Linked DNA regions of Homo sapiens: region 1 is linked to region 2. Evidence: fine-mapped expression QTL. A gene starts in region 2. The other region holds a variant in brackets. All regions are shown on one strand. Distances are from middle to middle.

What was found. PIP is the estimated chance that this variant, and not a neighbour inherited with it, causes the effect.
Region 1: its variant is fine-mapped to the expression of FIRRE in whole blood (TOPMed, PIP 0.99).

Annotation. Positions count from the first base shown.
Region 1 is chrX:131,763,082-131,777,910 of GRCh38, reverse strand. FIRRE (firre intergenic repeating RNA element) reads left to right here. Exons shown (of 10, transcript NR_152876.1): 5 at 9,215-9,362. Among named protein-coding and RNA genes, the nearest start is that of FIRRE, 60 kb to the left of the region's middle. RefSeq lists enhancers at 9,376-9,670, 13,534-13,583, 14,636-14,829. The variant T/C (reference allele first, on the strand shown) is at 9,690.
Region 2 is chrX:131,822,396-131,840,028 of GRCh38, reverse strand. It overlaps FIRRE (firre intergenic repeating RNA element), which reads left to right and starts at 9,386. Exons shown (of 10, transcript NR_152876.1): 1 at 9,386-9,737; 2 at 14,664-14,807. RefSeq lists an enhancer at 13,467-13,967.

The DNA.
Region 1 (14,829 bases), 61 kb after region 2:
TGTTGCAGCAGTATGAGAACACCAAAGACAGGCCTGTTCCAGGTGTGATAAAGCAGGAGCCAGTATGTTTGCTGATAGTCTCAAGGGCATCTAGTTGTCTAAAGACTGAAAGGACCTAAAGTTTTACATCTTCTAGTAGAGTTGTTTTTTGGTTTTGTTTTTTTAGATGGAGTCTTGCTCTGTCGCCCAGCCTGGAGTGCAGCAGCACGATCTCAGCTCACTGCATCCTCCGTCTCCCAGGTTGAAGGGATTCTCTTGTCTCAGCCTCCCGAACAACTGGGACTAAAGGTGGGTTCCACCAAGTTCGGCTAATTTTTGTATTTTTAGTAGAGACGGGGTTTCACCATGTGGGCCAAGCTGGTCTTGAACTCCTGACCTCAGGTGATCATCCCGTTTTGGCCTCCCAATGTGCTGGATTACAGGCGTAAGCCACTGTGCCCGGCCATTCTATTTATTTATTTATTTATTTAGTGGAGTTGTTACACATAAAGGGATGGGAAACAAAAGGAGTGAAAAGGATTGAAAATTAATCCACATTTTAAAAGTGCTTGTCTGTGGGAGGTAGCATTACCCATGATCTCACTTTGTTAGCGGTGGCAGTGAACCGAGTTACCCCGAGTAACAGGCGGCATATCCATATAGGTCCAGAGGAACTTCAGTCCTGGCGCCTCAGAAGAAAGAACTTCACTGAGGAGCATAAAGCAGGAAAAGAGACTGAGGCAAGATTCAGAGCAGGAGTGGAAGTTTATTTAACAGGCTTTAGAACAGGAAAGAAAGGAAAGAAAGAACCCTTGGAAGAGATCCAAGTGGGTGCCTGAATGGCCAAGAGAACAAAAAGACCTTTTAACCTTGATCATGGGACCTTATAGGCTTACCTCTTGCTCATGATTCTTCCTTTAGGGTGAGCTTTCCGCATGCGCAGTGCCCTCCTTACCCTTTGGAATTGAGCACTGTGCAGTGTGTTTAGGGAGTTATACACATGCCCATCTGAGGCTTTTTTCTTTTTTCTGGTGGCATGTACCCGGAACATCATATTTCGCCATTTTGTGTCTTAATACGCATGCCCAAGAAGCTGCTTCTCCCTGTGGCCTGCATTCAATTCGTACTTTTAATATTAACAGATGTGGATCATCAGGAGATTGTCTCTCCCAGGCTACCAAATTATCATTTTTAGAGGGGCAATGTGATCATTGCCGAACCATCATGTGACATTCCTACTGGGTCAGGGAGAGCCCTTTCCTGCCGTGCTCATTGCCTATCTATCTGTAACTACTTTTTCATATGTGACTATTTTGTCAGGCACATTTTGAAGAAGGATGAGTGTTCCTACAAATTCAAAAACAGGTAGCAAAAGTGACATCAATGACAATGGTGCAGTAGACACTTTCTGTAGTCCATCTCTCCAGAAAAGCAACTCAAAACAATCTATAATATGTAATTAGAAGATCATTTTCTCAGCACGATATATGGGGCATTTATTAAAACCTACAGCTAATAATATAGTCAAGAGGTAGACTGAAAACTTTGCTCCTAAAATCATGAACAGGAGAAAAATGCCCACTTTTGCCGCTTCTCTTAAACATTATACTTAAAATCTAGCTGGGGTCATCAGGCAATGAAGATATATAAAAAATATCCCAGTTGAAAAGAAAAAATGGAAATTATTTCTCTTCACAAATACAGTGATCTTATAAAAAATGCTGCCAGGCGCAGTGACTCGCACCTGTAATCCCAGCACTTCGGGAGGCTGAGGCATGTGAATCACCTAAGATCAGGAGTTCAAGACCAGCCTGGCCAACATGGTGAAACCCCGTCTCTACAAAAATACAAAAATTACCCGGGCATGATGGCGGGTGCCTGTAATTCCAGCTACTCGGGAGGCTGAGGTGGGAGAATCGTTTGAACCCAGGAGGCAGAGGTTGCAGTGAGCCGGAATCGTGCCATTGTACTCCAGTCTGGGCGACAGAGCAAGACTCCAGTCAAAAAAAAAAAAAAAAGCTCAAAAACCCAGAAAAACAGTATTAGAGGTAGTGAACAAGATCCAGCAAGCAACTGCAGGACAGAACATTAACTTGGAAAAATCAGTAGTAGTTGTGTACACTAGCAATGAATAATCTGAAAATTCAATTAAGAAAGCAATTCCATTTACAATAGCATCAAAATGAATCATAATTTCAGGACAATAATTAACTAAATAGATGAAAGTCTTGTACACTGAAAATCACAAAATAATGGAGAAGTTAAAGATAACCTAAATTTTAATAAAGAACATCCTGTGGTAATGGGTCTGAAGACTAAATATTTTTAACGTGGCAATACTACCCATAGAGATCTATAGATTTAATGTAATCCTTATTGTTATCCAATGAGCATTTTTTTTGTAAAAAAGGAACACAAATCCTAAAGATCCTATTGAATTGCAAGAGATCTGAATAACCAATGTAAACTCTGAATAAGAAAAACCAAGGTGGAAGACTCACACTTCTGGATTTCAAAACTTATTAGGAAAGCTGGAGTAATCAAAGCAGTGTGATAATCAAATAAGAATACACACAGTGATTAATGGAAAAGATGGAGAGCCTGGAAATAAACTCAGACACTGTGGTCAATTCATTTGTGACAAAGTTATTAAGGTCATTTTATGAGTAGTTAATAGAGTCTTTAACAAATAGTACTTAGACAACTGGTTATCTACATGCAAAAGGATGAATTTAGACCTCTACCTCACATTATATGCAAAAATTAACTCAAAATATATCAAATTTCTAAATATAAGAGCTAAAGCTATAAAACCTTCAGGGAAACTATAGGGATACATCTTCACAACTTTAGATTTGGCAATGATTTATTAGCTATACCACCAAAAGCAGCAATGACAAAAGAAAAAATAAATTGGACTTCCCTGAAATTAAAAACTTTTTGCATCAAAGTACACAATTCAGAACTTGAAAAGCCAACTTACAGAATGGGAGGAAATATTTCCAAATCAATTATCTAAAAACTTCTAATATCCAATAAAAACAAATAACTCTTAAAACTCAACAATAAACAGACAAATAACCCAATTTTTAAAAAATAGGCAAAGGGAGAGTGATATCACCAACATGGTATAGCAGAAGTGATCTGACTTTACCTCAAAGAAAAGTAAAAACAGCTGTGTAGAGACAAGATTACTAGAAGCAATATTCCAGAACTGAACATTGAGACTGTGACTATCCATGGGGCTATAAGGAAGTGAAAAAGTATGAGCAGCTAGAAAGACTAATGGACTTCTCTCTCCATGACTCCCCAACCCAAGGCTGCTAGGCACCATGTAGAAAAGTCCCCCTTGACTGGGCGCGGTGGCTCACGCCTATAATCCCAGCACTTTGGTAGGCCGAGGCAGGTGGATCACCTGAGGTCAGGAGTTTGAGACCAGACTGACCAATATGGTGAAACCCCGTCTCTACTAAAAATACAAAAATTAGCCGGGCGTGGTGGTGTGCCCCTATAATCCCAGCAACTCGGGAAGCTGAGACAGGAGAATTACTTGAACCTGGGAGGCAGATGTTGCAGTGAGCCCAGATTGCGCCACTGCACTCCAGCCTGGGTGACAGAGTGAGATTCCATCCCCCTGCTCCCCCCCCCACCAAAAAAAAGGAAGAAAAGAAAAAAAGAAAAGTACCCCTTGGTTCACAGTTTCCTCTGTAAAATGTGAGATCAAGGCAGAGAGCTAGCTTCTCTCCCATTTTGGTGTCCTTTGCAGGGATCCTATTCTTGCCTCAATCCCTAGGAGGCATCCTGACTGCCTGTAGGAGGAAAAATCCCTGAGGGGGTAGTCTGAGACTGAAAGTGGAGTTGAAGCTAGCAACCCCAGTGCATTAAATCTGGGGACTTCTCTTTTACTCAGGCAAAGAAGATCTCAAACCAGAGCGGGACATCAGCAACAACATGAAAATGAACAGGAATGGAAAAAGAACAGGAAAGGCTAGACTTATATAAATTAGATTAAAGTCAAAAACTGTAGAGAGAGACAAAGAAGGTCACTGTATAACAATAAAGATGCCGGCCGGGCGCGGTGGCTCACGCCTGTAATCCCAACACTTTGGGAGGCCGAGGCGGACGGATCATGAGGCTAGCAGATCGAGACCTTCCTGGCCAACACGGTGAAATCCCGTCTCTACTAAAAATACAAAAATTAGCCGGGCGTGGTGGCAGGCGCCCGTAGTCCCAGCTGCTCCAGAGGCTGAGGCAGGAGAATGGCATAACCTGGGAGGGGGAGCTTGCAGTGAGCGGAGATCGCGCCACTGCACTCCAGCCTGGGCGACAGAGCCAGACTCAAAAAACAAACAAACAAAAAAAACAAAACAAAACAAAAAATGAAGATGCCAATTCAGTAAGAGGATATAACAATTTAAAATATGTACGTACCCAACACTGGAACACACAAATAGATAAGGCAAACATTTGGAGATCTAAACGGAGAGATAGACAGGTGTACAACAATAGTGGGAGACTTCAGTACCCCACTTTCAGTAATGGACAGCTTATCCAGACAAAGAAACATTGGAATTAAACTGTACTCTAGACCAAATGAACTTAACTGACATTTACAAAATGTTTCATCCAATTGCTGTAGAATATACATTCTTGTCATCAGTCAGCACATGGAACACGCTCCAGTATAGAGCATGTGTTAGGCCACAGAACAAGGCTCAACAAATATAAGAAAAGACCCGAAAATATGAAAGTACCAGAAGAAGAGACTGCGGAAATGCTTTAAGACATCATTTTGGGCAATGATTTTTTTGTGGGAGACCTCAAAAAGCACTGGCAATCAAAGCAAAAATGGACAAATGAGAGTAAATCAAGCTAGAACGCTTCTGCCCAGCAAAGAAAACAATAAAGTGAGGAGACAACCTACAGTAAGAGAGAATATATTTGCAAACTTAAAAAAGCTCAGCTCAATAGAAAAAAAACAAATATATCTGATTTACAAATGGGCAAATGATCTGAATAGACATTTCTGAAAGAAAGGCACACAAATGGCTAACGGATACATGAAAAAATGCTCAACATCACTAATCATCAGGGAAATGTAAATCAAAACTACAGTGGGGTACCGTATTTCCCCAGCTCAAATGACTCTTACAAAAAAGACAGAGAGTAACAGGTGTTGGCTAGTAAGCAGAGAAAGAGGAATGCTTGTATAATGTTGCCTGCAATGTACATTAATACAGCCTCTATGAGACACAGGATGGAGTTTCCCAAAAATACTAAAAATAGAATTACCATATGATGTAGCAATCCCACTGCTGGGAAATCAGTACTATATATATATATATATGCATTCTCATGTTTATTGCAGCATTATTCACAGTAGTCAAGATATGGAATCAACCTAACTGTTCATTAATGGATGAATGGATTAAGAAACTGTGGCATACATATAAAATGGAAGATTATTTAGCCAGAAAAAAGAATGGAATTCTGTCATCTGCAGCAACATGAATGGAACTTTAGGACACTATGTTAAGTGAAATAAGCCAGATACAGAAAGACAAATTATCACATGTCCTCACTCATATGTAGGAGCTAAAGGAATCCATCTCATGGTATGTATAGAGTAGAATGGTGGGTACCAGAAGTTAGGAAGAGAGGGGAATGAAGACAGGTTTGTTAATGGCTACAAAAATACAGTTAGACAGAAGGAGTAAGTTCTAGTGTTCAACAGCACAGTTAGGACATCTATAGTTGACAATAATTTAATGGTTATTTCCAAATAGATAAAACACATTTGAAATGTTCCCGAACACAAATAATAAATGCAGTAGGGAATGAGTATCCCAGTTTTCCTTTTTTGGTTATCACACATTTTATGCATACATCAAAATACCATGTGTACCCCATAAATATGTACAACTATAATGCATCAATTTTAAGAATAGGCAAAGGTCTTAAATAGACAATTCTCCAAAGAAGATACACAAATGACCAACAATTACATGAAAACATACTTCCATTATTAGTGTTTTCAGAAATGTAAATCAGAACCACTTCATGATACCACTTAACACCCACTAGAATGGATATTACTTAAAAAGAACAAATATGGGTGGGGAGGCGGAGAAATTGGAACCCTTCTGCAGTGAAGGTGGGTATGCTAAATTGCGCATCTGCTATGGAAAAGTTTATCAGTCCTTCAAAAATTTAAACATAGAAATAACCGTATGACCTAGCAGCTCTACTCCTAAGTATACTCCGCAAACAATTGAAAACAAATACTCAAAAAAGTACATGTATATACTCACTGTATATATTTATTAACAATACCCAAAAGGTGAACACAAGCAAACATCAATCACTTGATGAATGGATAAACAAAATGTGATATATACATATGGATATTATTCAGCTACAAAAAGAAATGAAGTACTGACATATATTACAACATGGATGAAATCTGAAAACATGCTAAGTGAAAAAAGCAAAATGAAAAAGGCCCCTTATTGTGATGATCAGTAGTGAGGGAAAGCAGATGAGTGTTTGCCAGGGGCTCGGCATAGAGTGGCATGGGGAATGACTGCTTCATGGGTCCAGGGTTTTCTTTTGTGGTAATGAAAATTATTTGCCACTACACAGAGTTAGTGCTTGCACTGCATTGTGAATGTACTAAATGCCGCTGAATTTCACACATTTTAATGGTTAATTATATGTTACATGAATTATACCAACACAGTTTTAAAAAGTGCCAATATTTTTAAACCTATCATTATTTCCAGGAATAACTAATTATATTTGAAAAGTACTCAAGTTATCAGTTACAACATGGATGAAATCTGAAAACATGCTAAGTGAAAAAAGCAAAATGAAAAAGGCCCCTTATTGTCATGATCAGTAGTGAGGGAAAGCAGATGAGTGTTTGCCAGGGGCTCGGCATAGAGTGGCATGGGGAATGACTGCTTCATGGGTCCAGGGTTTTAACAACTTGTTTTAACAATTATACTACAGGGGAATTTGAACATTAGTTTATAAATGTACATATTATATGTGCAAAGGAACAAATCATAATACGTAGCCCAAACATTTTAAAAGTGATTATTTCTTCTCACTGTGTTTGACCTACCATATGTTTTCTGCTTATAATTCTTAAAATTCTTCTAGAGTAAAATATAAAAAAACTCAAGCACTCAGAAGTATATATTGATATGGATATATTCAAAGATTATAAGGTGATGCTGAGGATTTTGGACCAAATTTCAAATAGTATGAATCCAGTTATATTGAAAGTAAAATGTGTGCGGTACTCTGTGTGTATTCATATCTGTTCATATGCATATACAAATGTTTAAATACCATATATATGTTTTTTTTACACAGGATCAGACTCTGTTGCCCAGACTGGAGTGCAGTGGCAGGATCATGGCTCAGTGCAGCCTCAACCTCCCTGGACTCAGGTGATCCTTTCACCTCCACTTCCTGAGTAGCTGGGACTACAGGTGCATGACACCATGCCTGGCTATTTTTTTTTTTTTTTTTTTTTTTTAGAGACAGGGACTCGCTACATTGCCAAAATTGCTAATTACTAAATTGGTCTTGAACTCTCAGGCTCAAGTGATCCTCCTGCCTCAGCCTCCAAGAGTGCCAGGATTAGAGTTGTGAGCCACCACGCCTGGCCAATGCCATATATTTTATATCATGGTCAGTGTTATACTGAGCATGCATTTGAATATGATATTTTTGACCAATAAATTCATATCTTTAATTCATAGTTACATAAACAGAGACATTAATGAAACATTATAGCTTCATGTGAGTGGTGTGAATACATCCATCTTAAAGTTTTACTGGGGTTCACATCTAAGTGACTGAATATGAGATGTGCCTATTTCAATTATCATTTATTGAATTTTGTTTTCTTTCTTTTGAGATTTTAAAGATAAAATTTGAAGGTAAGAATTAGAGATAAAAATTCAAGAATAATTTTAAAATCCTAATTTTCAGAGGCATAACTATGTAAAATATATATATTTATATATGTGTTTATGTATGTATAAATAGATTTTATAGATTAAAAAAGCAAGGTGAGATCTTAATTCTTAATGACTAGTCCAATCACATAGTTCTTTGCAAATATTTTATTGTCCAAAATTCAGAAATTGCAAATTTTATATGACAATGTCAAAAACTGGTCAGAAATCAAATTTTAGAATGAAAATCTTCATTCATACTATGGAATATTCATACTAAAATGCAGTGCATAGCTAAATCCAATTTAAATGTAAATTCATTGTGTTGACTATATATAGAACTTTTTATCTATGTATTGAAAAATGGAATAAATATGGAAAAGGGTATCAGTGTTTAATATACAGTTTTATGAGACTGCTTTTCTCTTGATCAGCACATGGGTTTTTTTTTTTTACTTCTTTGCAAATTCCACCTTTTTGTTACTAATGAGAAAATATAGGACTGAATCCTAACTGGAAAACAGTAACACATATACACAGCAAAGTTATAGGGCAGTCTTAAGCCATGGCCATTTAATGACACAGGAAAATGTTTGTGTTCCAACGTTAAATAATGAAACCATGAGACAAAATCCTGTGATCCATCTGATTAAAATTTATAGTCATTCCTGTGTTTGTGTCCATTCGAATCGGGTTCTGTGTCTCTGTCAAGCTTGAGAACTACCTGGTCCCTTATCTTAGAGCTCCACTAAATGGCAGCCTCCCACTCAACATATAAGGCCCAATGCCTGGATCAGAACATGAAATGGAACTCCTAGGGAACCTGGGTAGGGAGTCAGGACAAGAACCACATGGCCTGGCCGGGCTCGGTGGTTCACGCCTGTAATCCTAGCACTTTGGGAGGCCGAGGCAGTCGGATCAGGAGGTCAGGAGATCCAGACCATCCTGGCTAATGCGGTGAAACCCCGTCTCTACTAAAAAAAAAAAAAAAAAAAAAAAAAAAAAAAAAAAAAAAATTAGCCGGTCGTGGTGGCGGGCGCCTGTAGTCCCTGCTACTCAGGAGGCTGAGGCAGGAGAATGGCGTGAACCCGGGAGGCGGAGCTTACAGTGAGCCGAGATAGCGCCACTGCACTCCAGCCTGGGCAACAGAGCAAGACTCTGTCTCAAAAAAAAAAACAAATGAACCACATGGCCTGGTGCCTAGATTTGCTCTTCTCCAAGACCTTAGGTGTTAACATTTCTTTGTTTGTTTGTTGTTTCCTTAGGCATGGATCCCTGAGGTCTGCCCCAGTACTATAAGACAATTTGATGTAAGAAAACACAGCAGATATAATACTGAGTGAAGAAGAGTATAAATGAGAAGATTGGTTGTGCAGATACTGAGTTCATGAAAAGAGGAGATGATTGATGAGGGTGAGTGGATCACACCTCGGTTTAATATCCAATGGAAAACAAAAGCAAAATGCTAAGAGTGGAATAAGTTTACACAAATTGAGCAAACTGCTAAGTAGTTCTAGTTTCTGGTGTCTTTGTCTCTTCTTGGCCTTTTTTTGAAATGTGATGGGCGGGAGAATAGCGCCTAGAGCAAAGTCAGTTGGCTTCTCCCGTACAATACTGCCATCGTGCGGAAACAGTTTCGTAGCATCCAAAGCCGTGAGCGTTTCCTCCATGTGAGCCCTAGCAATTGAAGGAAAAGCCAGTGAAGGCTGAACAGACCCGAGACACAAGTTGATCTTCCTA[T/C]CCTTTTCTCTGAGGCCTGGCAGAAGCAATGAACAAATGCAAAGTCTCCGTGAAGTATCTGCTGAGTGAGGGAGCAGGACTGAGCCAGCTGCTTCCAGGAAGTTTTGGCACAGGAAGTAGAGGACAGGGCCTGTTTTCTCATAGTGGGGACAAGGCTAGAAAATGATACAGCCAAGTACAGACCCTTGGGGCATTTATGTTATGAATATGCCCTTGGGAGCTTTAGGCAACCTGGTTGTCCTTGTGTTGTGGGGCTGTGACATTTATAGCAGCAGTGTTGGCTGGCAATGACAGGCCAATTCCAGGAACCATCTATCTGAAGTCAGCGTCACTCACATGGTCCTCAATACACTAAAATTCTAACCACCATTGCCTATAGCTAGAAGGACCTCTGTAGAGCAGTAAGGATACACTGAGATGCCTATGTGGGCCAGATCATCTTTTAGGAGAGCTGATATGCTAAAGAGGATGAAGGCCAAAAATGCAATGGAAGGCCTAAGCAATTATCTGAGCGCACAAGCCAGCAGCTTCTGTGACGTTATAGGTTCAGGAGAAAGTCTTTTGTCATAATAGGACGCCGATGTCATCTCAGTTCTCTCAAGGAGGGCAGATAGGTGGCTCTTTTCTGTTCGATGTCCTTGGTAAGTATGGCATTGTTTAGGCCTGAGCAAATCATTATCTACTGCATCCTAGCTAGTATTTTCTGTAGCAGCTTCAAATCTATTTCCTAATGAAGATATCCAACCTTTGGTGTGGAGACCTCTAGATACTTTATGACTCATAATTGAGAATCAAAATGGTGACTAAAAGTGTATGGGTGACTTGATCCTCATGACATTCTTCCTCAGAATTTATTATTTTAGTATCTGAATTCTTAATGAAAGGAATTAATGTTAGTCTGGTTCTGCACTGTGACATTACAGTGCTTCAAGAGCTTGTTCAGGTATGACCTCTCCTGGCCTCTGAGGATTCAGGCAGGCATTCCAGGGTAAGGCATTCTAGGGTAACCTAGCTTTTTTGACATCTTTGACTTTGTCTAGTTGAATGATGATCTGCATACATAAATGCTATTGGCATGCACAAGTGTCTTGGAGACTCTCTGGGAAGCATTTCTCCATGACCCTTGATATCTTACCTCCCCAGAGTATTTCACCTAAAGTAGACTTAGACATCTGCTAAACTACCTCCTATGGAGGAATAGTTTGACCTGACCATTTTCATGGAAGAATACAGACCTACCTATGGGACAGTGTCTCATATCTGAAGGTAGAAATGCTGGTGTCCCCAAACCTAGAATTCTTTAGGCTAAGTGATCTTTTATTCACCCCTTGCTAACTATCTTTAATAGAGGCTGTGTGCCTGGGCAGTGGATAGAAGCCTGGCAAGGAAATCACACCTAGCCAAGTACCAGTGGTAGTGACAAGGAGGTTGATTGGTTTATTCTGCAATGGAAGATAGTGTGGAGGGGCAATGAGCCTATCATTCCCATTTAGGTTGGATACATGTCATTCATTTGCACCAGGTAGTCCCTTTAGCCATCATAAAATCTTAATTGCATTCTCTGTATCCTCGTAAACAGCCATTCCTTGCCTCTGATTTAGGGAGAATAGCAAATTGTTGAACCTTGTGGATTAAACCTACCACACCATAAGATAAATAATAAATAACAAAGTAAAGTGTATTTTACTCTACTCTTTTTTTTTTTTTTTTTTTTGAGGTGGAGTCTCGCTCTTTCACCCAGGCTGGAGTGCAGTGGCGCAATCTCGGCTCACTGCAAGCCCTGCTTCCTGGGTTCACACCATTCTCCTGCCTCAGCCTCCTGAGTAGCTGGGACTACAGACGCCAGCCACCACGTCTGGCTAATTTTTTGTATTTTTAGTAGAGACGAGGTTTCACCGTGTTAGCCAGGAAGGTCTCGATCTCCTGACCTCATGATCCGCCCGCCTCGGCCTCTCAAAGTGCTGGGATTACAGGCATGAGCCACCGCGCCCAGTGCATTTTACTCTACTTCTAACATGTCATAACCTTAAACCAAACATATAGTCATGTATGTATTCTAGAGAGCCAATACGCACGTTGTGATGCATCTGTAAAAATTTAAACAAAAAATGAATGGTGTCTACATTTCTAAAGGAATGTTTCTGAGCATATATTTTTCAGAGTTACCTTCATTTACACTGAAGGCTTGCAATGTTGAAAACATTTACCATTTATGATATTCAAATGAATTCATCCTCCTGAAAGCTTTGTTAAAATACACACTTGATCTGCTCCAAACCACAGTGTAGAGTGTGACCCAATTTCAATACAGATTTGTTATTTGCATGAAATTAGGAATGTATATATAGCCGGGCGTGGTGGCTCACACCTGTAATCCCAGCACTTTGGGAGGCCAGGGTGATTGGATCACTTGCGGTGAGGAGTTGGAGAACAGCCTGGCCAACATGGTGAAATCCTGTGTCTACTAAAAATACAAAACAATTGGGGATGGTCCAGGTGGCTCACGCCTGTAATCCCAGCACTTTGGGAGGCCTAGGCGGGCAGATCACGAGGTTGGGAGATGGAGACCATTCTGGCTAACATGGTGAAACTCTGTCTCTACTAAAAACACAAAAATTAGCCGGGCAGGTGGCATATGCTTTTAGTCCCAGCTACTCAGAAGGCTGAGGGAGGAGAATCACTTGAACCTGGGAGACGGAGGTTGCACTGAGCAGAGATCACATCACTGCACTCCAGCTTGGGTGACAGAGCGAGACTCCGTCTCAAAAAAAAAAAAAAACAAAACCAACAAACAAAAAAAACCAAGTAACCAGGCCTAGTGGCATGCACTTGTAATCCCAGCTATTCAGGAGGCTGAGGCAGGAGAATCGCTTGAACTGGAGGTTGCAATGAGCCGAGATCTCGCCATTTCACTCCTGCTGGGAGACAGAGAGAGTTTTAGTCTCAAAAAAGAAAAAAAATGATGTGTATATATCGGGGAACCAGCCCCGATATTCACGTAGGTTCTTTTCTATTTTCCTTAAGCGTCGGCCAGCTTGAGAAATAAAGGGACAGAGTACAAAAGAGAGAAATTTTAAAGCTGGGCTTCTGGGGAAGACATCACATGTCGGTAGGTTCTGAGATGCCCCACAGGCTGCAAAAACCAGCAAGTTTTTATTAGGGATTTTCAAAAGGGGAGGGAGTGTGCGAATAGGTGTGGGTCACAGACATCAAGTACTTTACAAGGTAGTAGAATATCACAAGGCAAGTGGAGGCAGGGAGAGATCACAGGACCGAGGGGAAATTAAAATTGCTAATGAAGTTTCAGGCACCATTGTCATTGATAACATCTTATCAGGAGACAGGGTTTTTGAGATCAACCAGTCTGACCAAAATTTATTAGGCGGGAATATATGCATGGAAATATATTCTTTTATTAGGCGGGAATTTCCTCTTCCTAATAAGCCTGGGAGTGCATGGAAATAATCCAAATTTATTTATTTATTGCCTAGACAAATTGTATTGTAGTGCTTTCCATCTTTATTAGTACATTGATTTTTCTCAATCTTTGTCAAGCATTATTCTTTAATTAACTAGTGGGAGAATACTGTAAGACTTATATCTAAAAGACAAATTATAAAATACACATGCACACACACACACACACAAACAGACACACCCCATAAAGTCTCAGGAAATACTTGAAGACTATGTAGTGTCATGGGAACATGCCGAGTTTTGATGTTAAATGACGAGACCATGAGATGAAACTGTGAATAACCTTGATAGGAACTGAAGATATGTAGTATGAGTATCATGCCATGTGGAGCGCATATGGCATGCAGTAATGACAGCTATCTGGTCCCTCCTCTATGGTTCATGCCAAATTGTTGTCTGCAATGCAACACATGAGCTAAAACATGAAGAACTCCCTGGTTGTCTGGAAGGGGAGCCAGAATAGAGACCACCAGGATTTGTAAATCCTGGTGGTCTCGGAGCCTCAAGCAATTTTATCGCTGTGCTTTCATCCCCAAATTTATCCCCCGAGGGAGACAGTTTGATGCCATGGAAAGTACTGGACCTATAAATCTGAGGTAAATCGTAATCATATAGACTAGGTTAGGAGGATTTTAAATGTCTGAACAAATAAGATTTCTGATGAGGGTGGGTGGTTTCGGCCTTGGTTTGATTTCAGATGGAAAACAAAAGCAAAATTGCCACAGTAAGACCAGATGACTCCAAACTGGGCAAAAAGCAAGGCAGCCATGTTTCCTTGTGCCTTTGTCTTTGGGTGGCGTTTTTTCAGACAAGAAGGGCGGGAGAAGAAGGCTCCACGACACCTGTTAGCACATCTAGAGCACTACTGCCACCGTTAGGACATAGTTAAGCAACGCCCTACGCCCTATGCCTAAGCCATGTCAATGTCCTTCCCCTGAAGACAGTCCTTCCACCTGTTGGAGAAGGTCTGGCCTGTGGGGAGGGGGAAGAGGCTTGAGCTCCATGCTGCTCATCCTTGCCCTATCCTCAAAGACCACACTTTGGGAGGCTGAGGCGGGCGGATCGTCTGAGGTCGGGAGTTTAGGACCAGCCTGGCCAGCATGGTAAAACCCCATCTCTACTAAAAATACAAAAATTAGTCGGATGTGGTGGCAGGCGCCTGTAATCCCAGCTACTCAGGAAGCTGAGAATCGCTTGAACCCGGGAGGGGGAGGTTGCAGTGAGCCGAGATCTCGCCATTGCACTCCAGCCTAGGCAACACAGTGAGACTCCGTCAAAAAAAAAAAAAGACCTGGACATTGGTAGTGTCTTGGTATAGAACCTGGAGAGTGAAGGAAAGTAAATACTGTGAATGTCGCTTGGTAAAATCCTGTTCCTTGTACACGGTACTGATGCTACCAGAGACCCAAAGACCTGTAGCAAGATGCAAGCACATGAAAGCCTGCCAACTCTTGCTCCAAGGGGCAGGAACAGGAGACAGATGCCCACAAGAGCCTGCATGTGTGTTTGAGTGGGTTCCTGTTGTCCAGCAAACAACTGGGGAAATAGAGGCCCTGCCCCGGAAATTCCTGTGCCAGGACTGCCTGGCAGCTGCTGCTTCACTCCAAGCCCCTCACTCTCCAGGTTCTACACCAAGATACCGCCAATGTCCAGGCCTCTCTTA
Region 2 (17,633 bases):
GTTTCCTGTAAGGCCATGTCGCAGATACGGTTAGAACTTGTGTCTGGATCTCATTCTACTCTGCTTCTGGGGCCTGGCCTGACATGAAATGCTAATCTGGTCCGGCTTATGTTTATGTCAGTGAAGCCATCCTCATGAAGAGGACGTGCACATTAGACCACAGTGGGGTTTCTAGAACATGTCCTGTCCCTACATAGGAGAAACTATGGGTCAAGGTATCTTTGGTCCTAGATGCAGAGAATAGCAGACTCTTTCTGTAAAAGGCCTGATGGTGAATGATTTAAGCTATGCAAGCCACAGGTGGCCTCGGTCACATAGCCTCCATTTTTTCAAGCAAAGCTTTAAAAATGTAAAAATCACTCTTAGCTTTCAGGCCTTACAAATACAAGTCACTGGCCACATCTGTTCTGTGAGTTAGCTTGCCAACCCCTGGCTAGACATTCATTCTCACCTCTCAAATCCATCAAAGCCCTCCCTCCTCTCCTGGGCTTTCCATAGCACAAGTGCAGGTTTATAATGAATTTCCTCACCATGAGTACCTGAAAAGAGACTATGGAATTGAGTTTTGTGTACACTGTGAGGGAGAAGTAAAGTTTCATTTGCACGCACGGATGCCCAGTAATCCCAAGACCACTCATTGAAAACTCAGTCATTTCCCCCACAGAACTGAAGCGCTGCAGCTGTCATATATCACATGTTTTATTTTAAAAGCTATGGCTTTCTCATCAGTGACTATGGAGGCTACAAGACAGTGTCACGTCCTCTTGAAAGTGCTGATGGGAAAAAAAAAATCAACCCAGAGTTCTCCATCCTTGAAAATATCTTCACAGATGAAGGTGAAATAGATGTTTTCAGACAAAAGACAACTAAGATTCTTTGTCACTGGTAGGCATGCAATAAAATAAATGCTATAGGACATTCTTCAGGTTGAAGAAAACTACATCAGGGGAAAATACAGATCTTCCAGAGCCAGAACATGTTCCAGAGTAAAGAACATCAGAAATGTTCAGTGTCTGAGAATGTACAAAAAAAATTTTCACTTAGTTCCTTTAAAATATACTTGAATGCTTAAAGCAAAAGTTCTAACATCATTTTGCTGTGTTTATAATGTATGTACATAAATTACATATGACAATAATAGTATAAAGGACACCGAGGAATAGTAAAAGTATGTATATTGTTATAAGGATTTTACATTCTGTATGAGGCGGTAAAATATCAACTCTGAGAAGATTATAAAAAGTTAAGGATGCATATTGCAATCGCAAGAATAACCACTAAAAAATAACACAAAGTGGTATAGCCAAAAGGCCAACAGACATATTATAATAGAATTCTAAAAGATAAAGTGTTCTAATACTTGAAAGGAAGGAAAGGGGAAATGGAAGAATACAAATTAATGAGGACAAACAATGTAAACTATAAAATTGTAGCCCAAAATTAAAACCTATCAGTAAATACATTAGCTGTTAATGGTTAAACATTCCACATAAAAGACACAGTTTTTTTGAATAGATACAAAAGCAACACCAATCATACCTTGTCTGTAAGATATGGACTTTAGCAGCTTTAGAAGTGTTTTTGAAGAATCATTCTATGTAAACAATACTGTCATCTGTGAAAGCACTTTTACTTCTTTCTTTCCAAACTGTAATCTTTTTTTCTTTTTTTTTTTTTTTTTTTTTTTTGCCTAATTGCACTTCTTAGAAAATCTGGTATGACGTTGAATAGAAGAGGTGAGAGACGAATTCCTCACGTTGCTCTAGGTCTTAAAAACAGTGTTGACTTTTTCAGTGTTAAGTATGACATTAGTTGTATATTTTTACCATATTGAAGATATATTTTCTTCAATTTCTAGTTTGGTGAGAGTTTTTTAAAATCAGGATTGGTGTTTATGTTTGTCAAATACTTTTTCTACACAATTTCAGATGATTATATGCTTTTTCTTATTAATTTTATAAATGTGAATTAACCTGTTAATTTTTGAAACTTTTAAAAACAGCTTTATTGAGATAGAATTCACACACTATAAATTCCACCAATTTAAAATGTACAATGTGGTGGTTTTCAATATATTCACAGAATTGTGCAATCATTACCATAATCAATTTTAGAATATTTTCATCACTCCAAAAAGAAATATGCCTACTAGCAGTTCTCATTCTCAGCTTCCTCTAGTCCCTGGCAAACACTAATCTACTTTCTGTGTCTATGGATTTGCCTATTCTGGAAACTATATATAATTGTAATCCTACAAGATATGGTCTTTTGTGTCTGGTTTTTTTCACTTAGCATGTTTTGAGGGATTTTTCATGTTGTACAATGTATCAATAATTCATTCTTCAATATGGTTGAATAACAGTCCATTGTATGGATATACCACATTTTTATATATATTCATCAGTTGATGGACATTTAAGTTGTTTCTACTTTTTGTGTGAACATGTTTTCATTTCTCTTGTGTAGATAAATAGGTTTGGAATTGATTAGTCATATGATGATAGAATCTTCAAACTTTTGGGGAACTGCCAGACTACTTCTAAAGTGACTGTACCATGTGATATTTCCACAAGCCATATATGAAGCTTGCAGCTTATGCATATCCTTACTGACACTTGTTATTATCTGTCTTTTTAAAATATAGACAACCTAGGGGCTGTGAAGTAGTACCTCACTGTGTTTTTCATTTGCATTTCTCTAATAGCTAATGAGGTTGACCATCTTTTCACATGCTGTTAGCCATATACATATCTTCTTTGGATAAATATCTATTCAGATCATTTGTCCATTTTTAAAAGAGTTATATTTTTATGACTGAGTGGTAAGAGTTTTTTATATTCTGGATACAAGTCCCTTACCAAATATATGATTGGAAAACATTATCTCCCATTCTGTGAGTTTTTTCTTTCTTTCTTGATGGTATCATTTGTGAAACAACTTTTTTAAAACTTGATGAAATCTGGTTTGTCGAGTTTTTTCTTTGGTTGGCTATGCTTTTGGTATCCCTAAGAAACTAATGTGTAAAACAAAATCATGAGGATTACTCTTATGAAAGACTGTTTTTCTCTACTGTTACACAGAACCATAAACATATACGGATTCTAGAGGGTGAATATGTACTAAGTACAGTTTCTGGAAGGCTTCTAATCAAACACTAGTATAGTTTGTATCTCAAAAATACAAGTTAGAGTCTACAGGTTTTAACTATTTATGTCTTAAAAATTGAAATGTTGAAAACGAGCAAGGGTTGATTCTGAAATTTACAGAAAACCCAAAAAAGGTCCTAGTATACATTTAATAAAGGTACAAGTTATACAATATTGTTTTATTTCAGATTCTATTTTCCATAAGAATAGGCACACTTCTATATATACATTGAAATGATTAATGTCCTACTTTTAATGGTCATGGAAAGAAAAGCTTTTGGCAAATAATTACTTAACATAAAATCCAGTCTTCTTTGGCATGCTTAATGGCATTGTAAGTGGCCTCGCTATAAAAGACCTGAGTAAAGCATAAAAAAGAAAAATAAATTAAAAAGAGAATTCCATATATAGGTCATGTCCATTTAAATTCATACCAAAAAACCCCTGTACACTCCCATGCAAAAGTGTATATAGAAGAAAAGGTGGAATGTACTAGATTGAAATATCAATTGAGTTTGTGTGATTCAGAGTATCCTCTCTTTCCTGTTTTACGATTACTCATTTGTCATTTCTTTGCCAGATGCATCTATTATCCTTAAGAACTTAACAACAAAGCAATCGTATGAGATTAAAAATAAAGTACTATCATGAAGAGATATGCTATTCAGTATCCATTATTCAATGTTGAATGAAGAAACAATGACACAAAACTCCACCTACATTTTAACTAGAATGTAATTGAAGAAAATAAATGGTATATTCCTCCCTGGATGAATGTATGTATGCTCCAAGCATCTTGTCAGCAAATAGGGGAGTTTATTGATGTGCAGTAGGATATATTTATTTAGTTAAATAATGTCAGCTCTCATGAGTGGTTGTACACCTTATTTACAACATTTGAATACATGTACCCATTAAGCTGCTAATAGTGGTTCCCTTGGGATAGATTGATTTGGGATAAAGTATTTCCTTAGGTCTTTCATTGATTCGTGCACTCTATGAAATTTTTCATAATGCTTCTATTATCTTTGTAATTCAATAACAAATCCAGAATAAATATGTGCAGAAGGCTGTGTGCAGTGGCTCACGACTGTAATCCTAGCACTTTGGGAGGCCGAGGTGGGCGGATCACCCGAGATCAGGGGTTTGAGGCCAGCCTGGCCAACATGACAAAACCCTTTCTCTACTAAAAATACAAAAATTAGCCGGACGTGGTGGCACATGCCTGTAATCCCAGCTACTCGGGAGACTGAGGCAGGAGAATCACTTGAACCTGGGAGGCGGAGGTTGCAGTGAGCTGACATCGCGCCATTGCACTCCAGCCTGGGCAACAGAGTGAGACTCTGTCTCAAAAAAAAAAAAAAAAAAAAGTGCAAAAGAAATTATTGGTGAAAACTTGCTGTGTTGAACACATGAGAGAGTCCTAAGGAATCTATATCTCTGAATGTATACAACATATATCTGTGAAATATGGTTGAAAATACAACCATATTTTGCAGGTCCTTGTCCTCTTGAGGTGGCATTACCTATGATTTTGCTATGCTTCTTTAAAAATGGATGTTGTACCTGAACACATTATTTAGAAATACATCTGATTTGTGAAATCCCAAAAGTAAGAGGCTACTCTCTAAAATATAATCAGTATTTCAAAGAATATTTAATGAAGTTTGGAAAGTACTCTAGCTACAATATGTACAGAAAATGTATCTGAACACTGAAGGTACAAAGGAATTTGAATATGATTTTTAATGTTATTATATGTACATAAGAGATGAGAATGACATTTTGTTTATTTATTTATTTATTTATTATTTATTTTTGAGACAGAGTCTTGCTCTGTCACCCAGGCTGGAGTGCAATGGCGCGATCTTGGCGCACTGCAACCTCTGCCTCCCGGGTTCAAGCGATTCTCCTGCCTCAGCCTTCTGAGTAGCTGGGATTACAGGCATGTGCCACCACGTCCAGCTAATTTTTGAATTTTTAGTAGAGACAGGGTTTCACCATGTTGGTGAGGCTGGTCTTCAACTCCTGACCTCATGATCCGCCCGCCTCGGCCTTCCAAATTGCTGGGATTACAGGCGTGAGCCACCATGCCCGGCCTCTTTTATTTATTTTGGAGACAGAGTCCCGCTCTGTCACCCTGGCTGGAGTGCTATGGCACGATCTTGGCTCAGTGAAGTCTCCACCTCCCTGGGCTCAGGTGATCTTCGCACCTCAGTTTCCCAAGTAGCTGGGACTACAGACACACTCCACCTTGCCAGGATAATTTTTGTATTTTTTTGTAGAGACAGGTTTCACCATGTTGCCCAGTCTGGGTGAATGACATTTTAAAAGTCTTTATTCTTGTTGGGATTGAACTATCATTTATTTTTGGCTTCATGATTTCTCAATATCTGAACAGTTTGCCAACAGCAACTATTGCTTTTTAAATTTTCTGGATAATAAGGCTCTTTCCAGGGTAGAATAAAAAGATTTCAAGTTCTCCAAGTACATATATGTATATGGGAACATGGAAATTGTATGAGATAATGATGATGTTTCTGTTCAAAACTACCTTCGGTATTCATTCAATTATGTTTAAAGATAGATAAACTACACATTAGTATACAGTCATGCCCTGTATAATGATCTTTAGGTCAATGACTGACTGCATATATGATGGTTATGTCATACATAATATTATAATATCGTATTTTTATTGTACCTTTTCTATGTTTAGATACACAAATACTTACCATTGTTACTATTGCCTACAGTATTCAGTATAACAACATGCTATACCACTTTGTAGCCTAGGAGCAATGGGCTATATTCTGCAACCTAGGAGTGTAGTAGGCTATACTATCTAGATTTGTGTAAGTACACTATGATGTTTGCACAATGATGAAATCAACTAACAATGCACTTCTCAGAATGTATCCCTGTCATTAAATTAGGCATGACTCCATATCCATCTATATGTGTACTTATGTTTAAAAAGTATATATATTTTTTGAGACGGAGTCTCACTCTGTCTCCAGGGCTAGCGTGCAGTGGTGTGATCTTGGCTCACTGCAACCTCTGCCTCCCAGGTTCAAACGATTCTCCTGCCTCAGCCTCCCTAAAAAGTGTATATTTTTAATTATGATTATTATAGTAACAATGCACTTAAATTTCACTCTCTTTGTCCGTATATTAATGTGTGTTTGTATATGTATGTATATGTGTACATGTGTATATGTATACACATAGAAACTTTGATATTTAGCTTCATATATAATAATAAGTTTACATTCATATGGGATTTATTCATATATCATGATTTGGATAATATTTTCACTTCTATTTCCTTGGCAATTTGTCATTACGAAAAATTTGCAAGACCTAATTTTTAGGAAATAAATAAATTTAAAGGGAAACATTAAGAAAAGATTATAGATGAATATAAAAATATGTCAATGCATTCACCTTGAACCTTTGATGGAGTACGTGTTTGGGTCACAGTCACAGTGCTAAAGAGATGAGGACACAGACTTTATTTATACAGTAATGCAATCTGTTGTTAATTTTTTTTAGTAATAAAATAAGATTAGGCCAGGTGCAGTGGCTCATGCCTATAATCCCAGCACTTTGGGAGGCTGAATTGGGAAGATCGCTTGAGCCTACAAGTTAGAGATCAGTCTGGGTAACATAAGGAGACCCCTTCTCTACAAAAAAATATAAAAAAGAAAAAAATAGCTGGGTGTGGTGGTGTGTGCCTGTGGTCCTAGCTACTCCAGAGGCTGAGGTGGGAGGATTGCTTGAGCCTGGAGGTCAAGGCTACAGTGAGCCATGATTGCATAGACTTGCCAGACCCAGTCTCTAAAAATATAATAATAAATAAATAAAATAAGATGAAATTTTAGATTTAATTGTAGGTTAAAATTTTGAGAAGGAAGGAATATCCTATATTTTCTGATGCACGCATGTTATACTTGTGATTCAATATTTGTTTTAGAGTATACACATGTTAGCATAATAAAGATTAGAAGCTCTTCAAATCATGATACCTGAGAGGAGACATCATAGGAATTAAATTTCCAGTTGTTAAATAAGTGTTTTATGAAGTGAACATGTCTTCAGAGACCATATTGTTATTGAATGTAGCAATCAAGAAGCTCTTGGTTAATGTTTCATTTACTAAAAATTCAGGTCTTGCAAATTTTTCATGATAATGACAAACTGCCCAGGAAACAGAAGTGAAAGTATACTCCAAACCATAACATACAAATAAACCTCATTTTAATGTAAACTTACTATTGTGTATGACACGAAATATAAATGTTTATGTGTATATATTGAAATGAGTGCATGAGTATATGAGTTTGCATGTGTATGTTGAAACTGTGAAAGGAAAATAAATCTCAGGGCCCCAAAATCACTAAGCCAAAGGGAAACGTCAAGCTGGGAACTGCGTCAGGCAAACCTGCCTCCCATTTTATTCCTAAATAAGATGGCTACAATGATTGAACAAAGCAAAAACAAAAAGCTACATATCTCCCTCACAATTTGCCCACTAGGAAATTCCTTGTGAGCCCCAAGATTTTTACCCTGAAACAGTTCTGTTGAATTTCACCCTGACAATGTAAATTTTGGCTTATCCTCACAGGTATGGAACAAAAGACAGAACTCAAAGTCTTCCCTCCGCTCACTTGAGACAAATGCATGTCTGATTGCTTCCTCTGCCCTGTGTTTATTTTATCCTATGTAAAAAATGCAGATTCACTGAGCTAGATGAATGTGTACGTGACTATTCCTCTACCCTCATCTCGCCTATGAAGGGCTGATCAAAGACTCAAAAGAATGCTACCCTTTGCCTCTTATCTACCCACATCTTTTCAAAATTTCTTCCCCTTTCCCCAGTATCTGCCCTTTCCCCTTTAAATATTGAAGCCCTCAAAATCATCTTTGAAGAAAGGCATGGACCTATCTCCCAGGCATGCGTGTACTTAAACTTGCAAAATAAATTTCTGAAACTATTGAGACCTGTCTCAGACACTTTTTAGTTCACAAAACATAATCCAGATGTTTATCAGTATTACTAATAGGTACTGTTTATGACAGTGCTTTACTCTTGGTCAGCACATGGTTCTTTTCTGAATCCTTTGCAAATCCTTTGCAAGCACCATGTCTTAATTACGTAAGATAAAATACCATAAGATTGACCCCTAAGTGATAAGCATATACACACTAAAGTCACAGGAAACCATTGACAGTCATATAAGAACATAGGAACATGCCTGTGTTCCGATTTTAAATTATTTTGACTATGAGACTGTATCAGTCTCCTCTGACTGGAATTTATACATATTTGAGTTTGTGTACCCTTCCAAATGGGCACTGTATAGCACGCAGTCTTGAGAACCATCTAGACACTTAGCTTAGGGTTCCAGACAACTGCTTCTCCCTCAACACACAGGCCTAGTGCCTAGGCCAGAAATTGAGTAGGACTCCCGGGAAACCTGGGAAGTGAGTCAGGCAAGAACAACATGGATTTGCTCTTCTCCAAGCCCTTAGATGCAACCATTTGCTTTTCCCTCTAGGCCTGGATCCCTGAGGTTTGACCCCTGATACACCAAGACAATTTAGTACCATGAGAAAAAGTTAGGTGAAGAAAAAGCAGAACTGTGAAGACTAGGTAAGTGGAAATTGAGTTCTTGAACTGAAAAGACCCCTGATGAGAGTGTAGGTTTAGGCGCCAGTTTGATTTCAGATGAAAAACCAAAAGCAAAATCACAATAGTATGAGCGAGTTTCTCAAGTCAGCCATATTTCCTGGTGCCTTAATCTGTTGGTCACATTTTTTTTTCATACCAGACGGGCGGGAGAAGAGGGCTTGGGGGCAGTATTGGATAGAATTCCAGGAGCAACACTGCCATCGTGAGGAAATTTCTGGAAAAAGCCCCATCCCTTAGAGGGCTTATATTGGAAAGTTCCATTCTGTTAGAGGCTGAGCAGGCTCGGACCATGAGCTGGATCTTAGTTCCACCTCCTGAGGCCTACCTGAAGCTCTGGACAGAGTGAGGTCCAGGTGTAGGAACTGGCCCGTGGGGAGGGAAGACTAAGTCGGCCTCTGGCAGGAAGTCCAGGCCCAGGAAGTTGTAGGGTGGGGTCTTGGTATTCTCCCAGTATGGGCGGGACTGGAGGAAGCCACCAACCAACGAAGTACTGGGCCTGTGGGTATTCGTCTCTCTCCCCGCCCCTGAGAGTCTGGGAAAGGCTGACACGTGGTGCCTTCAGGCTCTGGGGCCTAGGACCTTTGTGGTAGCAGAGTCACTGCAGAGAACCAGACAATACCAGGTTGCTTATAAAAGGATGCCATGTGCTTGCTGGAGGTCCCAGGTGCAACCAAATTGCTTGCAGCTAGGAGGACCTTGAAGAGAAATGGGATCAGCCCGCCAAACCAAGAAGGGTTAGCACTTTTGCTAGGAGAGCTGACCACGCACAAACAGATGAGAACCAAAACCGAGTGAAGAGGATTGAAGATGAACCCACATTTTAAAAGTTCTTGTCTGCTGGAGGTGGCATTACCTGTGACCTCGCTTCACTTCTCCATACATGGCTGTTATAGCAGGTACATTGTAAAGAAGCATGATTATTTCTAGAAATGCAAAAACATGTGGCAAGATTTTAAAACCTGTCATTATTCTAAAGAATACTTAATGAGATTTGAAGAGCATTCAAGTTACAAATGAGGAAAACTTGTTTTAGCATTCAAAGTACAAGAGAATTTGAACATTTTTTAAGTGTATATTATTTGTGCAAAGTGAAGATATAAGAATGTATGGCAAGGATATTTTTAAGTGGCTATTTCTTGTTGTGATTGAAGTACCGTTTACTTTCTACTTATAATTTCTTAAAATCTAAACGGTGCCAACAGTGGGTGTAACTTTTGTAATTTCTTGAAATAGAAAGGTCTTCTAGAGTAAGATACAAAAAAAATCCAAGCACTCAAATATACATTGTCATTCATGTATGCAAATGGTATAAGGTGGTGTTGAAGAATTTGTGCAAAACTGTATCCAGTTTGCATTCAATTGTCTTTAAAGAAAAGGATAGTCCATGCTCCCAGAGGCTGAATAAAAATAAATAAATAAAGAGAAGTAAATATATATATAATAGGTGCAATCATTTTCTTTTCCCTCTAGGCCTGTAACCAGGTAACTTGGACCTATCTATCTAATGCTTATACATATATATGCATTATGCATATCATGCATAATCATGGTCAGTGTTAGAGTGAGTATGCGTTTCAACTTTATAGATTTTACATAAAATTTTAAGATAAAATTTTGGTATAAGTTTTGAAAAATATAAACAAAAGAAACCCTAATGTTCTGAGGCATAAGCACATAGTGCCTGTTCCAATGTTAGCATGTATATATATATATATATATAGTCAGCATACTAATGATTAGGTAAGGCAGGTATCAAAATTAAGATACTTGAGTGGTGGCATTATAGGTATTATGTCCTGTGTATAAATTTTTTAAAAATTGAGAACCTAACATTCTTTAATGAATTAGTCAATCAAGAAGCTCATTGCAAATATTTTATTATCTAAAATCCAGGTCTTGCAAATATTTCATGACAATTTCAGTTACCCAGGAATGAGCAGTGAAAAGTTTGCATCTAAAACATGATGCATATATAAATTTAATTTAAATATGCTTATTGTAGTGTATTACCGTAAATATAGACCTCTGTGCATGTTGAAATAATGGGAGTAAATATGCAAAAGGCTATTAGTGTTTAATACAAGATTTTATGACAGTGCTTTTGTTCTTGATCAGCACATGGTTATTTTCTAAATTCTTTACAAGCACCATGTCTTAATTACTTATGAGGAAACACCATAAGACTGATTCCTAAGCTTAAGCAGTGGCACACACATATATAATAAAGCCATAGGAAGCCATTAAAAGTCAAATAATGATGTGCATGGGAACTTGCTTGTGTTTTAATGTTGAATGATGGAACCATAAGACAAAATCATGTTCCTTTCTACTGGAATTTTGTAAGTTTGGAGTGTGTGTGTCACCCCAAGAGGGATATTGTATGGAATTCAGCCTTGAGATCTATCTGGACCCTCCTATTAGGGTTCTGACATGGCTGCCCCCAACTCAATACACAAGACCTAGTGCCCAGGTCAGAAAATGGAGGACTCCCAGGGAACCTGGCAGTGAAACAAGTCACATGGCCTGGTGCCTAGATTTGTTCTTCTCTAGGCTGTTATTTCCATTATTTTCTTCACTTTCTTAGCCCTAGGTCCCTAAGAATTTCCCACTGAAGCAGATAACTTGGGAAATTGTTGGGGATCAAGGTTGAATGAAGAAGAGCAGACCTACAAAGCTATGGTAGAGTGGAAATGGGCATTTTTTTGTTTTTTTAAATTTTATTATTATTATACTTTAAGTTTTAGGGTACATGTGCACAATGAGCAGGTTAGTTACATATGTATACATGTGCCATGCTGGTGTGCTGCACCCATTAACTCGTCATTTAGCATTAGGTATATCTCCTAATGCTATCGGAAATGGGATTCTTTAAACAAAGTATGGCTGATGAAACTGGGTGGTATAGGCTTCAGTCTGAGTTCAGAGGGAAACCAGGAGCAAAAGTAAATTCGAAAGAGCAGATTTTCCCCAAACAGGGCCAATAGCAAGGCAGCTTTGTTTCCTGTCTCCTTTGTCTTGGTAGCTTTTTTCAGATTGAATGGGTGAGAGGAGAAGGGCTCTGGGGGTGGGGTGCCCAGGCAAGGCTAATCAGCTTTTCCAGAGCAATACTGCCATCAAGAGGATGTAGTTTGACAAAACACAAACCCAAAGTTGTTAGAGCCCCCCCAAGTTTTAGCAACTGAGAAATGTTGGGCCTTTTGTGAGGTTGAGTGGACCCTAGCCCTAAGTAGGTCCCCTTCACTTTAAATCTGAAGCCTTCCAGGAGCTCTGGACAAAGGCAGGATCCTGGGGGAGAAGCTGATAAGTGGGGGGTCAGGGGGAGGACTGAAGGGACAGCTACTAGGCAGGTGGAGTATAGGAAGTATTGGGGCTTAGATATCTACCCAGTGAGGGTGGGGCTAAAACAAATGGCTCAGATCCTATTTGGGGGGACTTCTGGCCACATATCCTCTGGCCATGCCCTTTGAACAATGAGGTAGGGGGTTGGCACAAGGTGTAAGCAATGTTAGGGTGCAGATGAAACATCTCATTCCAGATGATATCTAACAGCAGCCAGCGTGCTTTCTGGGGGTCTCAAGGATACCTAAAAGTCTGGTGCCCCCATTGCCTAGAGCAAGGAAGACCTGAGGAGAAGGCAGTGTGTGTCACTTGGCCAAGCCAATAAATCCTTGAACATCAATAGGAGTGCAGATATACACAACCAGAAGACCTGGAAGTATTTTCTGAAGCCAGGAGGTAACAGCTACCATGGCTTTGCAGCACTTTTTCTAGGGCCCAGTGTGAAGGCCTACCTATTTAGAGAAACCTACTCTTAGCTCTATTAAAGGAACAGAAATGAGTTCTTTAGCTATTGGCCTTCCCCTAAGGAAGATGAGGCCATTGAGACTTGGGACCTAACTGTTCATTCAGATTAGCAAGTATTGTTCTCTGTGCCTGCTTCTTAGCCTTTTTCTAATGAAGATTCCTTGTAAGCCCTCTAAAAGCTGAGCACATCAGGACCCTCAGGACACTTGCCCATAGCATAGCAAGAAAAGGCAAAAATTTTGTAAGATTGACTGCATGTGAGAGTTTTCTCGTGTATCAGTGATGGATTCAGTGGCTGACCACTTACAGAAGAGAAAGGAATGTTATTCTCATGCACTGCTGTAACATATGGTCACCACCTGAATTCTACTTGCCCAGGGTGGAGCTATAACATCTACTAGGAAGTTTTTAGCAACTACTACAAAGACCATAGGGTCCCTGGGGAAATTGACTTTCCTGCTATTCATGCCTTGGTCTAGCTGTCCTTGAGGATGTTATAGGTTGACATGAGCCAAGAAGGGTTTGAAAACATTTGAGAAAGCATGTCTCAATGGTCTCAAATACCTTATGAAAGTGTAAGGTGACCTCTGACCTTTTCAGCCTACTTCAGCTAAGCAGGTGACTGAGAGAAACCCTGCATCAGATGGGTTAGGCTGCCTGCTGTTGAGTCACAGTTTGACTTGACCATATGCTAGACTAGGAAAGCCAGATGTGTGGAGACAGTGCACCATAACTTAACTTAGAATTGTGAGTGACAGAGAGGTAGCCCCAGCCCTAGAATTCCTCAGGGTCAGGAATTTTGTATTCCCACACATTTTGGTTTACATTAAGAGACTATCTGGTCAGAGAGTGGATAGAGGCCTAAAGCAGCAGCAACTTGCTGAGTCCCAGGAATTCAAACGTGACACCGTGACCAGGAATGGGAGATTATAACTATTGCCAACTCTCAATACCACTCAATCATTGACAGTCAGCTCAGATCAAAAGCTGTTTCAAAATGTAGTTAAAAAGAAAACCACTCAGCAGGAAAGATGGCAAAGGAATAAGGCACCTCTATTATCACAGTCTCAAATTCACCAGTACTGAAGTAAATTGCAGTTCACTGTATTCTTCCATAATGCCCTTAAATCTTCATCATAACCCCGAGCAAGCCTTTGAAAAGGAATCCATTGATGTCAGTGTTTGTGTAATGATTTGTAGAATTGGACAAGGTCCTACCAGGTGAGAAGCACTGTTAATTGGTACACCTCTTTGAAGGTCAACAGGCCAAATCATTTAACCTTTCACATGAGCATACCCTTTGTCCAGAGACTACCTCTTGAAAGTGATCGCACAGCCAAACTCCCACAGGAAAGTAGAAAGGAGAGGACAAAGAGGATCGCTGAGATTTCTTTTGCAAGGATGGCGGTGGGGAGGGGGCAAAACATCCATTGTCCAAGTTCAACTACAGTAAGTTCAGCTATAGTAGGTAGTCTTTTTAAGCCTTTGGAAAGATTGAAATCCATTCGCCAAGTCCTCAATAGGGGAGATGACCACACCTCTGATTTAGGGAAGAAAATGTGAAATGTTGTAACGGGAATCAAACCATTCTGGTTGGCTAATAGCAAGGAAATAGAAATGAAAGATGAAGTCTTTCTTTCTCTCTTAATTACATATGTTATTAATTCAAGTTGAACACATAAACCTATTGGTTCAGAAAAGCAAATAGGCAGAAAGGAAGTTATCTGGAAAGTTCCCCAGTCAAGCAACTAACAGTGTGTAATTTTCTACAGTGATGTTTCTAATGACTTGCCTTCACGTTTTAACTTACACTTGTCCAAAGCCTTGAAATGTTGAAAATGAGAAAAGCTTACATTTGCAAGTTTTTTAAAAATCAAGAAACCAGCATCATCTCAATATATAATTAGGAAAACAACATATTACAAGATGTATTTTTCTTTAAAACATACACACTTCTACACACATGCAAGATTTAAAGGCTCTATTCTGAAATTCTATTTCCAAATTTTACTTAACAGAAAATCCAGCTTTCTGAAGCATATTTCACGACATATGATGAGACTTATGTGATGTGAGACCTGAGAAAACTATGATAGAAAGAAGCAACTCAAGTTGCAAGGATATTCCTCATGTATCATGCAAGGATATTCCTCATATATCATGTAAGTAAAAAGTCACCAAATCCTGACAACCTGTCCACATGTGCCCACACATGTACAATTATATAATAAAAAGAGCAGAATGCAATATAACAAACATCAATGGAATATCTATTAAACTTCTTAAGAGTATCATTTCTTTACTGCTATATATTTGTTCCACTTACTGATTTTTTTCCAGATGCATATAATTCTTACGGTTTGATCAACAGTAAAAGAATGCTATGAGATTTAACCATAAAAAACTATCTTGTTCCTCAAGAAAAGTTAATGATATTGGAGAGTACTCATTTTCTAGTGTTGAATTGAGAATTCAGGGCACCAAATTCTATGTGTAGTGGGACCAATGAGGATGGATTTGAAGAAAAGAAATGGAAGTGTGTGTGTGTGTGTGTGTGTGTGTGTGTGTGTGTGTGTGTGCGCGCGCGCGCGCGCCTAGCATTGTGCTGAGGAATGTGGGGAGTATATTAATGAGATATAGATTAAATTTATTTCACTGAATAACATCAGTTCTTATTGAACAGTTATATATCATTTTTTTAATGTTTAAACCAATATACTCATCAAGCTGCTAATAGTGGATGCCTCAAAAAAGTGGGATTTGTGATAAAGTGTTTCCATTTGTTCTTCATAGATTGTGTATTCTAAGAGATTTTTCAAGAAGCTGATAAGATATTTGTAATTTGAGAGTCAACCCAGAACAAATATGTGCAGAAGAAATTGTTGGTGAAAACTTGATTTGTTGGCTATTTGAGACCTAATATATTTATATATTTAACTGATCACAGAAAACAGGTGTATTCAAGACACCCACATTTTAAAAATCCTTATCTGCTTCAGTGGGCATTACTTGTGGCCTCACTGCACTTCTTTGTACAAGGCTAATGTGTCTGGTTATTTTGTAAACAGGTATGCTTAATTTTAGGAAATGCAAAAATATGAGAAGCAACCTTAAAAATATTGCATATTCCAAGGAGTAGTTAATGATGTTTCCAAAGACCTCAAACTGTCCTGAGAAAAGCATGTCTGACATACAAGGTAACTGGGATTTTAGGTTAAAAAATGTACATTATATATGGATAGGGAAGATAAGAGAATGTATGGCAAAGACATTTTAAAAGTTATTTCTTCTAGTTTTCATTGAGATACCATTTATTTTTGGCTTTGTAATTTCTTAAAATATGAGCAGATTTCCAACAGCAGATGTTACCTTTATAATTCCTTCGAAGAGAAACCTCCTTGTACAATCAAGTATAAAGAAATTTCCAGCTAGGGAAAATAGATGTTGATATATGGAAACATGCAATTTATGTAAGTTGGTGCAGAAGACTTTGTATAAAACTATGCCCAGTATAAGTCAAGTTATAATTAAGGTGAAATAAATGTGCACATATATGTATAGCAATATTATATATTATATATGCCATATTTAAACTATAATAAATGGAGCAATAAGAAACATTTTTGTTTGTTTGTTTGTTTGTTTTTTGAGACGAAGTCTCGTTCTGTAGCCCAGGCTGGAGTGCAGTGGCGTGATCTCAGCTCACGGCAACTTCCGGCCTCCTGGGTTCAAGTGGTTCTTCTGCCTCAGCCTCCAGAGTAGCTGGGATTACAGGCGCGCGCCACTGCACCGGGCTAATTTTTTGTATTTTTAGTAGAGACGGGATTTCACCATGTTGGCCAGGCTGGTCTTGAACTCCCGACCTCAGGTAATCAGCCCGCCTCGGCCTCCCAAAGTGCTAGGATTACAGGCGTGAGCCACTGCGCCCAGCCAAGAAACATTTTTTTGCAGTGTTTTGATTACTAAACATGAAGACAAAAATTTTATGTAATGTGGCCAAACTGTCTGAGAATCAGGAGTGGCAATCTCCTAGGCAAACCATCATGTACAAACAACCAATTTTAATATAAATTCATTGTCACATATGAACATAAATATAAAACTCTGTGTGTATTGAAAGGAGTAAGAGGACATGATCCAAAAAGTTATCAGTGGTCTTAATCAATTTTATGACAGCGCTTTACTCTTTATCAGTGCATGGTTATTTCTGAATCCTTGGCAAACATCATGTCTTAATTACTAATGAGGAAGTGGTTTTAAGGCTTATCTCTAAGAGATAAATGGTAAATACAGATATAAAGATAAATACACACACACACACACACACACACACACACATGTCCCTACATATCCAATAAAGTGGTAGGAAGCAATTGGAGACCACTTAATGGCATCGGAAAGTGTCTTCAAATGGTAAATGAAATCACAAGACAAAACTCTTGGAATGGGAGCTACTTGGGCGCTTCTCTTAAGACTCCAGCCAAATGGCTGCCAACAAGTCAACACATAAGACTTAGATCTCTATCCTGAAAATATAGAATTCCTTGGGAGCCTTACAGATGGATGAGCCAGGCAAGGACATGTGGTTTGGTACTTAGAGATAACCTCCCGGCCTTGAGTTTGTAGCATTTTCTTTTTCTGCTTAGGCCTGGATTCTTGAGTCTTGAATCCAGAAGCAGACAACGTGATAACTTGGGAAAATACTGGAGATGTATGCTGAGTGAGCGAGAACACAACTGTGAAAGCTAAACCTATTGGAAATGCAGTTCTTAAAAAGAGAAGGCCTCAGTTTCGTTTCAAATGGAAACCAAAAGCAACAGTGCAGCAGCGTGATAAGATTGTCCCAAACTGGGCAAAAGTAAGGCTGCCATGTTTCCTGGCGCCTTTTTCTTGCTGGTGTTTTTTTGGACAGAAAGGGCGGGAGAAGGACTAGGGAGCGGTACTTGTTGGCATATCTGGAGCACGACTGCCATCGTGAGGAAATAGTT